2 separate regions of the Homo sapiens genome follow, and region 1 is linked to region 2. Evidence: fine-mapped expression QTL. Tissue or cell type: lymphoblastoid cells. Region 2 holds a variant in brackets; the other region holds the start of a gene. All regions are shown on one strand. Distances are between the middles of the regions.

What was found. PIP is the estimated chance that this variant, and not a neighbour inherited with it, causes the effect. A credible set is the group of variants that fine-mapping cannot tell apart.
Region 1: ADCY1 starts here. The variant in region 2 is the best candidate, but not a certain one, in a credible set for the expression of ADCY1 in lymphoblastoid cells (TwinsUK, PIP 0.51).

What each region holds. Positions count from the first base shown.
Region 1 is chr7:45,572,200-45,577,573 of GRCh38, reverse strand. ADCY1 (adenylate cyclase 1) reads right to left here and starts at 3,206. Exons shown (of 20, transcript NM_021116.4): 1 at 2,392-3,206. The coding sequence starts at 3,030. RefSeq lists a silencer at 2,721-2,820 and an enhancer at 3,632-4,192.
Region 2 is chr7:45,483,058-45,488,431 of GRCh38, reverse strand. No RefSeq gene overlaps it. Among named protein-coding and RNA genes, the nearest start is that of ADCY1, 89 kb to the left of the region's middle. The variant TG/G (reference allele first, on the strand shown) is at 2,428.

The DNA.
Region 1 (5,374 bases), 89 kb before region 2:
TGGCACAGGTCTGAATAGAAAGTGGATGGTAAAGCAGTGAAGAGCAGCAGAAACATCAATGCTGTGTAAATGCGTGTGCTGTCTTCTTCACCATCTCAAGCACCAAACTGCAGAGCTCATTATGGACAGATTTCACAGGCTCCTGGAATTCTCTAATTGGAAAGCAGAATCCCTGGGAATCATCTGCCCTGCTCCCCCCACTGTAAGTCTCCCTGCATTGATCCCCATGTGTTTGTCAGTATCACTACCACCTGTATAGACACGTGGACTTGAATAGAACATTCTAAAAAGGCCAATATGTGCTTTTCCAATAGGAAGTGTTTACCTTCACTACAACCCTGCAGGGGGCCATTCTGCCCTTTACACAGGTGAGAAACCTGAGGCTCAGTGAGGGAAGGCTTTGGATTGCCCAGGGAGTCACAGCTAGCAGGGAAACCCAGATGTCTGCTCCCTAAGAATCCTTGCTCCCAGGATGGGCTTCCTTCCCCACTACAGTGACAGTCACAGGGGCTCATCTTATCCCAGGGGGAGAGGCAGAGTTCCCTGTGTCCAGAAACTCCTTTATAGACTCTCCCCTCTCTCTTTTTTAATCTTTAATTCTCTAAAAGAAATGACTAGAGGCTATATAGGAAATGTCTTTATTTTAAAAGAGAAAGACAATAACGCAGCCTTTTATTACACCAGCTGACTCCCTGGTGTAATAAGAGAGAATGCAGTGTGGTTGGGATCCCTGGGCCTGCCCAGGGACCAAGCTCAGCCCCTCCCTATTCCCAAGCTGCCCTGGCATCTGGTCAGATTGGGGAGGCCGTCTTGCGGTTGCGGGTCTGGCTGTGGGGGCCAGCATGAGGCCCAGGCTAAACACAGACAGATGGGGGGTGGAGGCAGTAGGAGATACAGGAATGCCCCCTGAGACTGATAAGGCAAGGCCCACGTGCTGCCCACAGGAGGCTGTGGAAGAGCCTCCTTCCCCTCCAGGACATGAAGTCCTCTGGCTCCTTTCCCCTTTCCTCAGCCTTTAGCCATCCTTTTGTGCCTCTGCCCTTCACCTCTACCTCTCTTCCTCTCTTCCTCCGACGCCCTCTTTGACAATTCTCCATGTACTCCTGCCTTCTTCCCTCCCGCCCCTGCCCACGGGTTGAGCACATGGTGGTCTCTCTCTGACCCTAAGACACAAGTCCAGTGATGTGTCTATCCCTGTGCCAGGTTGAGCATCTCATGGCTCCTCTGACTGTGTGCTGCCCCTGGCATCACAGTCTAAGGATGCCTCCTTAGATCCTTGGGTGCTGGTCCCCCGGGGCCGGGCTGTGGGACTCCTTACCACCGCCCCCCAGTTATTCTTCCCTAATCTCTCTGGATTCAGCTTCCCCTCCGACCCCTTACCTCTCCCCAGTTTGCTCCCACCACTGCTTCCTTTCGTGAGATGGGCTCCCCCACTCCATTTGAGTCATACCATCCCCCTGCTAAACTGCAGCTAGAGGCAGAAACAAAACCCTCCTCAGGGTCTTCCAAATCTCCCCACCCCCCAACTCCCCAGCCCCATCCCTGCGGCCCGTTGGAGATGGGCACAAGGGGAAGCTCTCAAAGCCCCGCCGTGGGGCAAAGACCTCTGGTCCACGTCCACCTCCGGGCAGTTGGAAGAGCAGGCTCCTCCAGGGCCCAGGAAGAGTCCGCGGGAGGCAGACAGCGTCCCCGTCCTTGCAACCATCTCGCCCGCCCGACTGGGAAGACAGTGACAAAGTTCGGGCGCAGAAAAGGCAGGGTCAGGGCAACCGCCGAGTGGCAGCGGCAGGGACTAGACTGTGTTTGACCTTGGCAAACCCCACTCTTTCTGGGCCGGAGGCATGTCCACAGAAGGGTGGCCAGCAAGGCTGGAAGAGCCGAAGTCCTTTCCCACCACCCATATACCACCCTCGGGTCCGCAGGGTTGGGAGGCGAGCCCAGCACGCGCTCTAGGTGCGCAGGGGAAGAGCCCAGCGCTGCGCGCAGAGCCGGCCTTGGAGCTTGCCCTGGGGGTCTGCTCTCCTCGCCCACTTTCAGTCCCTCTGTGGGGATGGGTGCGGCAAAAGACCGGCGGACCCCTCTGGCCGCCGTCTGGCCGCTCATCAGCTCCCTGACCTTGGCCAAACCTTTCTCTCTCCACACCTGTCTCCCCTCTCCACACTTCACGCCAGGGGCGCTTCGTGGATTGTAACTCTGAAGAGAGCCCTGGCCGGAGGGTGCCAGCCCCGACTGCGTCCCCAACTCGTAGGAGTGACCTTGAACACACCCCCACTCGGAGCCTCAGTGTCCCCACCCGCCGCATAGGAAAAAGCGCGCCCGACTCCGGGCATTCCCAGCATCGTCCCAGCAAGTGTGTCCGAGACCAGATGAGGGGTGCGCGGCTGCACTTACCGTCCTCCAGAGACGTGGGCGCTTGGCGGGGACCAAGGTGGCTGTGACCAGCAAGTGCGACGCAGCCACCACGAGCCCAAAGCCTATGGCCAGCAGGCTGCGCACGGGCAGCAAGGCATAGGACACGAAGGTGACCAAAAGGAGCTGCCAAACCCCTTGTTCGGCGGTCGCTGGCCCCCCAGCGGCCCCGGCGGAACCCCGGGCGGGGCCGCCCAGCGCGAAAGGACAGCAGAGCAGCGCGAAGGTGAGGCTGAAGAGCAGCGCCAGCTGGCCGACCTGCTGCAGCTGGGGCACCTGCAGGGACCGGACGTTGGTTACCACGAGCAGCGCCAGGAAGAGGACGCAGTGCACCGGGTGTGAGCCCTTGGCCAGGCCGGGCGCGGGCCCCGGCGCGCCCAGCAGCTCGGCCAGCGCCAGCGCGCCCGCCAGCAGGCTGAGAACGGCCAGCGCCTTCAGCGTGGCCGCCTGCTCCAGCCGCAGCGTGTAGCCGCGGAACAGCGCCTCCAGCTCTGGGCAAGCGAACTCCTCGTCGCACGCCCGGAGCCCGCGCCGGCGGCTTGTCCCGGCCGCCCGCTCGGCGCCCCCGGGCTCGCCCGCGCCGCCTCCGCCGCCGCCTCCGCCGCGCGGCGCCCCCGCCATCTCAGCGCCATGCAGCGGCCGCGGCCGCGGGCGCGCCCCTCGCCGGCCCGGGGCGCCGGGGCGCGGGCGGCGGCGCCGGGGCGGGCGGGCGGCGGGCGGCGAGGCGCCGGGGCGCGGGGCGCGGGGCGGGCGGAGTTGGGGCGCCGGCTGCCCCGCGCGCGCGCCCGGAGCGCGTCCCCTCCCGCCCGCCGCGCCTGCGCACTGGAGCCCGCCCGCGCCCCGACCGTGGTCCTCGGCGGCGACCGCGCTGCGACAGCCGAGCCCCGGGAGCCGCGAACCTGGGCGCGCACAGCCCGCGCCCCAACTCCGCGTCCTGCGTTCCCGCCCGCCGGAGGAGCCGCGTGACCTCGAGTACCTTCCTTGTCCCCTCCGAGCCTCAGTTTCCCCACCGTGCACAGTGGAACCCACCCTCTTGGCGTCACCTGGGGAGTCGAAAATACTGAAATCCTGCGAAATTCCCTGTTGCGGGGCAGTTAATCTTGGAAAATATGTGCCTTCCCCCACTCAATAAAACCAGGCCACTAGATTTGAGAGGGGCCCGCGTCTGACTGCGAACCCAGGGCCCTCGCCCCTACGAGACGGAGAATCGACGTCCAAGAATCCCCGGGGTCAGGAGGAAGGTGGAGGCCTGGGGCGTACGTCCCTTCCATGCGCATGAGGGACCCCCCGCCCCTCGGCAATTCTTCCCTAAGCTCTAGGGTCGCGGAGACCCTGTGGGCGGGTGCGGGCTGCGGGAGCTGTGCTGGGGAGGCGGCGGTGGTGAAGTCCAAGAAACAAAGTCCTGGGAGTCGGCCCGAGGGATTCCTCCTGGGTACTGAACTGAACCAGGATGGGCTCCTGGCAGTGCTGTGTCCCGGGAAGAAGGTGTGAGGCTGTAGGTGCAGAAATGGGGCAAGAGATGAAAGGAAAAGGGGCGCTGCTGTTTGCCTTAACGATTAGCTGGATACCCGAGAGAGAGCGAAACGTTTTCTTCTAGCAGGACAATTGGGAGGGAAGGACGCTGGCCCATGGGGGTTAAAACCCGCGAGTCGAATTCCACTGCTTACATTCATTCACTATGAGGGAGACAACTTTGTGCTGGTGCTTCAAGTACATGATGTCATTTGGTGCTCAGACGGCCCCTGGGCTGCCTGCATCCCCCTTACAGTGAGGATCTCTCATGATCAGCTCCCTCCAGGAGGCCTAGAGAGGAGTAGCCACTGCAAGAACCCCTGCCTCCTCCGTTATCCCGGCTGCTTCTCGTCCCCTCAATATGGATAGACCAGGAACTGGGATCCCATGAAATAATGGAGACCAGGAGGCTAGGCCCCCTGCAGAAGGCCCCACTCCCAGAAACCAGGATTTAAGGGATCTCGCCCAGGCATTGGTCTATTTTAGAAATGCCCCAGGGATTCCATTAACTCTCAGGGATTCCACGTGTTGTTATACGGAACAAAGGTTAGAATTTGAGGCATTTCCATTTTATCTGGAATTGGTATCAGGTTGAACCATACAAAATTGCCGTTTTTGTAAAAGGGCCAAAGTTGTCACATGTCAGCTCTTTCATATGCTTCAACTTAATAGTTGCAGATGATGACACCTCTAGGCTTTGTCTAGAGTAGGGGCACTTTCCCATCCCATGTCCCCAGTAGCTCACACCAAAGGCCCCCAGCAGACACTTGATGACAGCTGGTCCCTCCTCCTGGAATAGCATCCCCAACAGAACATCCTTTCTGAAACCTTTCTGGCTCCTTCTGGCACAGCTCGTTGCTTTCTCCCCAGTCCCAGTCTTCCGTGAAAATTCATACCCACCACTCTGTAGCCTCATTTTCTGTTCATTTGCCTTCCTCCCCTCTTTGAGCTGAAGCCCTCAGAGGGCAGCACTGGCTCTGAAAAGATGGCATGGCCCAACCTCTGTCACTGACTTGAGAAAGCACCTTCTTCTATCCACTAGTCCCCTGCTTATCCCCAAATAGGAGCAAAGTCTGCAAGATTTTTCTTTTCAAGTGTTAAGATTGAAGTGAAGATTTTCTTGTTAACTGGTGTGGTATATTTTTGGATCCTAACAATTTATTAAAGAAAAGCTGAATAATATCCAAAAAGGATCAAACTACATGAAAATGAAAAAGTATGATAAAGTTAATCTGGGTGCAAAGTTTACAAATAAATGGCACCTTCTTTTACCTGTTTTGGCTCTCAACTTTGTCCTCACTCAAAAAATGACATTCAGACAGGTGCAGTGGCTCATGCCTGTAATCTCCGCACTTTGGGAGGCCAAGGCAGGGGGATCACTTGAGTCCAGGAACATGAGAGCAGCCTGAGCAACATAAGGAAGCCTCATCTCAACAAAAATTTAAAAATTAGC
Region 2 (5,374 bases):
CTCCTATTAATCAATCTACTTCATGTCAGTGATTTTCAGCAAACCTCCAAGGTACCAAGGGCCTTGGCCCCCACAAAACTCTTTGTTCAGGATGCAATTGTTCATTCAATATAGAAAGAGTGGAAAGTCAGCCATAAACTAGCACAGGCAAACAGCTAAACATAAGAGACATGTGATTTCCTCAACTAGTACCGAAGAAAGTGATAAAATAACTTTTTTTTTTTTTTGCTTTACAGGAATTCAAATGAAGAAGACAAAATAATTGCAGAAGTTGTGATGACTTCCACACTGTATATCACCTTCAGTCTTTCAGCTCAAATGACTGCCTTAACATACTGCTGCCAAAAGTATTTTCTGATTCCAACATTGCAAGAAAATTTATAAGTGCCAAAACAGAATCTCCTGCAATAATAAAATACGTAACCACTCCATTTACTATCACAGAGATTATCAAAGCTCCAACTACCTAATCTTTTTACAGCACAGACCCAGAAGCAAAACCAAGTAATCACAATACAGAAACATTAATTCCCTTTGCTCATGCAATATGTTTCTCTTGAAAAACACTTGCTTCTACGGTTGTCCCAAGTAAGATATCTTTCAGAGGAGACATCAATAATATTAGCAGATTTTCGCAGTGATTCTCTTATTGACTTTGTGGTTAATGAAAAAAAGTACTGCTTTTCATGGAAATGATACAAATACACATTTTGCTGGATGTTTGTGTAAAGGTGCAGAAGACAATGTCTATTGAAAGTGGCATAATAAATGATTCTGTGGCAGGGTTGGCTGTCCTGCCCATATTCTGCATAATGCTGCTCAAACAGCAGCTGATGTTCTTTCTATTGACATCAAAGTAATTGTCACAAAATTGTTCTCTAATTTCAGCATTAATACTGTTTGAACTGAGTAATTAAAGGGCTTTGGTAATTTTCTGGGCATTCTGTAGTGCTCAATTCACTCACATTCAAAAACTGTTTTCTCTCTTTAACAAATTCAGTTGAGAGACTCCTCAGTTTATTTGAAGCACTGAAATCATACTCTAATTCTGAAGAAAAGGCACTAAAATTTCTTCTTGACTTTATAAATAATTTACTGAGTGAAACCTACTTATTCCTTGCTCAGAGTTTTCAATATCCCCTTAGCAATAAGATTATGCAAATTGAGAGAAGAGCAAACAGTGTTATTGAAGGACTCTATTGCCTAAAGGAACTTATGAATACATTAAAGAAACCATTAAAGAAATATTTATCCCTTTAAGTATCATGGCTGTTCTTCAAAGGGACAACATTAATTATGAGCAGAAAAGGAAATTCTGGCTCAAAGTGGATAATTATTATGGCATTTGCCATGACTATCTTTGAAATGGATTTCATCCCTTTAAAAATTTCTTTCTTTTACATGAATGTTACTAATACTCTCTCAACCTGGGAACAACAAGAAACATCATGTGTAATGTTAAAGGGAATAAAAATTGACTGTCCTTTTTATTGTTGGTGGTGGGCCACATCTTCAAAAGTTGATGAATGACAGATACAATGGAATCTCTAAGAATGAGAAAGCAAGCTGTACTAAAGAGGTGGTATTATGCACCTCAACAAATCAAACCCCAAGGGCAGTTTTCAGAGTTGCTAACTTTATGCCGGGGTGTGCTCAGTGTGCCAGCTCATAATGCTAATGTTGCACAGTTGTTCTCATTAATGATAGCCAGTGGGCAGAAGAGTGACTAAAGTAACGGAAAATGAGCTATCACTGCAAGGAATTTTTTAAACAAGTTCTACAAACAAGAAATGGCTAAGGAGAACCAAATCATCAAGAAAATGTAATAAAAGAGAGGTATGTAACTTAGATTCTTATGATTTACTTCAGCTAAATGATGAATAATTCTTAGTACAAATATATCCATGCAATATGTTTCTTTTATATCAATGAATATATACATAGCTAATTAGAAAGAACTTAAATGAATATCAATACTTTTATGATCTAAGTCCAGCAGCCCTGCCCTGACAGAACTCACCAATTTCACCTCTCTCCTTACACTGCATTTTCTAGAGCCAAGCATGGCGTTTATATTAAGAAAAAAAAAATAGTAGCCTGAATCTGTTCTTAAGCATGACTGATAATCAAATGAGTTTTACCAATTTCCTAAACTGTGAGCGGAAATTATTCTTAAAGTTTCCAATTTAGGAAAAATTAATAAAAAGTTTGACAGACTGTTCCCTGAGATGTATATGCAGAGTGTCTTACTCAGGTTGGGCTGCTATAACAAAAAATACTATAGACTGAGTGGCTTATACAACTTAATTTCTCACAGTCTACTGGCTGGGAAGTCCAAGATCAAAGTGCTGGTTGATTTGGTTCTTGTTGAGGGCTCTCTTACTGGCTGGCAAACAGCTGCCTTCTTTTTTTTTTTTTTTTTTTTTT[TG/G]AGACGGAGTTTCACTCTTGTTGCCCAGGCTGGAGTGCAATGACACCATCTTGGCTCACCGCAGTCTCTGCCTCCCGGGTTCAAGCGATTCTCCTGCCTCAGCCTCTGGAATAGCTGGGATTACAGGCATGCGCCACCACACCCAGCTAATTTTGTATTTTTTTTTGTTGTTTTTAGTAGATACGGGGTTTCTCCACGTTGGTCAGGCTGGTCTCGAACTCCTGACCTCAAGTGATCCACCCGCCTCAGCCTCCCAAAGGGCTAGGATTACAGGCATGAGCCACCACACCCGGCCCTAACAGCTGCCTACTTATTCCGTCCTCACATAGTGGAAAGAAGGTGAGAGAGTTCTCTGGTGTCTCTTTTATGAAAACACAAATTAATCCCATCATGGAGGCTCCACTCTCTTGACCTAATTACCTTCCAAAGGCCCCATCTCTTCTTCCAAATGCCATCACATTGAGGGATTAGGGCTTCAACATATGAATTTTGAGAGGATGTAAATATTCAGTCCATAACACAGAAGTTTTTTCTTCTCTATTTAAAACTCAAGAGTTTCCAAAATATTTTACATACTTATGCATATATATGCACATATATATGTATGTGTGTGTATGTATGTATGTGGATATATGTATATATGTATCTATATATAGTGCGTATATATATGTGTATATATGTGTGTGTTTGTGTATATACATATATTTCAAAAGTTGAATGGTGCACCTGCCTTCTCCTGGTCCTTACCGCTGTGAGAGCCACTTGGCAGAGTCTGGAGGGCACTGAGAGTTGGGCAGAGGTCTGAGCTATGTTCTTGCCTTGAAGGTGATATGATGGCTAGAGCTGCAGGGGCTACTCTGTGGCTTGTGAGAAACAAGCTAAGGGGATTGCTAAGGGAACTGCCCTGACACCACTGAGCTGCTGCGCCAAGCCCCAGACTTCTTGTTTATTTGAGCCACGAGTGCTGCTCTTCTCTTACTCATATCTGAAAATATTGCAGAGCCTAACATCAGGTCATGGGCAACACCAGCGTCTGGAAAAATGGTATGTCCTTGTGTAAGGGATAAAGATAAAAGGTGTGACATAAGTGGCCAAACAGTGGAGACCCTAAAGAGCTCAGGATAAACTCTGCAGGGTGGCTAGGGTCCTGGAAAATGCACACCCTTTTTATTTTAAAAAGCATATTTAGTCTTCAAAGCTAATGATATTTCAAAACATACTTGAAAACATATTTTCTTCAATTTTAAAATCTTAGACTGCTTTGATACTAAAGTAGAAATAAAAACTGAATGAAACTGCATAATCGGGTCTGGAAAGTCAAATATGGAGAATGTGTTCCAGGCAACACTTCAGAATACAAATATTGTGATGCTGTAAATGCAGACTGCAGGACGGTGTGTGTGGTATCTTTTCTATCAATTTGCTGAATTTAATGGGCATATTTTGGCACATCAAGTGAAATAACAAACTTCCTAATTCTTTTTGTGAAAGCCATTCAAGCTGTTAGAGGGAAAATGCTGTTTTATAATCTATAATCAGGGGAACTCCTCCCAGCTTGCACCAGGACTACGAGGCCTAATAATGTAGCTGTAATAAGAAGAAAAGAACACTAAAATTTCTCAGCAGGCTGCAAACGAGCCCCGAGACATCCAGCAAAGGAAGTGCTTCCCGTCGATCCTCTGCAGGGGTGAGCAGGCAGTGGGGAGAGCCACGGCTCCCTCAGGAGGTGACTGAACTGAGCCACTGGTAGTGGCGTGAGGCAATGGCCTTCAGCTGCAGTGCTTTAGTGCTTAACTGACAGAAATCCTATTTTCCTTGTGCAGTGATTCTGAGAAGTGAGTTTGCATGGAGTGATCAGAGATAGTGCTTCCTGCCTCCTTTTCCTCTTTCCTGCCATTCCTCTTGATAACCAAATCAGCTCTGGATGGTGTAGGGGTCAATGAAACAGGTGGCCTTCAGAGCAGGTGTTTGGGACAAGCAGAGCCAGGTGATTCTGGCTTCCACACCCTTCTGGCTATGATACTTGGACATGTTACTGGGCATGTCTGTGCCTTCCTTTCCTCACTTATACTATGGAGATAAAGCGGTGCTGCTGTTGTACAATTGCAGGAAAAATTATGTGACGTCACCCTCAGTATCTGACCTACAATCAGCATCTAGGCGGGCACTCTAAAGATGGCAGCAGATTCTCAGCAGAGTGGTAGTCTACACCCAGGTGAAGATCCCTTCCGTTTTCCTTGCTATTCCTGCTTCTTTGCTCATCACTATCTCACAGAAGCACAGTGACTCCCGCGCCTCCCCCTGTAGGGCAGTTCTCAGGACCGAGGGGCGATCCACGGCTCTCCTACTAGCTCCAGGTGAGCCTTCTGCAAATAGGCCACATGTCTAAGCCGTCACTCTCTGGGGATACTGCAGAATGACTCTCATGTGACAAATTAAGACTAATTCCATTGATGAGGACCCCGCCCTTGATCCTGTCACCTTGACTTATACACTGTGATGCCTGGGGGCAAATCAGCCCTGAGGGGCACCTCATAGTTCTCACAATGCTGAGGGAAAATCATATCTTTGAACCTGTTTTGCACAAAGTGAATAAACGTGAATTGTATTTTCTTGTTCTCTTGGGATGGTCTTGAAATAGCTCAGCAAGTTTGCAGATGATAGTAGCTGGATTGGTTTGGGGGTGACATGGGGATTGGCAAGGGAGGGTGGATATCAGCCCCGGATCTAAAATGATACCTTAACAGTCTTGGGAAAGGGATCCTATTTAACTGAAATAAATGCAAAGTCTTGAGATTTGCTCCCAAAATGTTTCCAACATCACAAATACTAAGTAAGGAGAAACAGAGCAGGAGCCAGCTCAACAGGGATCCCCCTACCAAAATTGGGTTAATTAGGGCATTAGAAAAAATAATGGCTGTCACTGACTAAAACGTGTTCAATTTC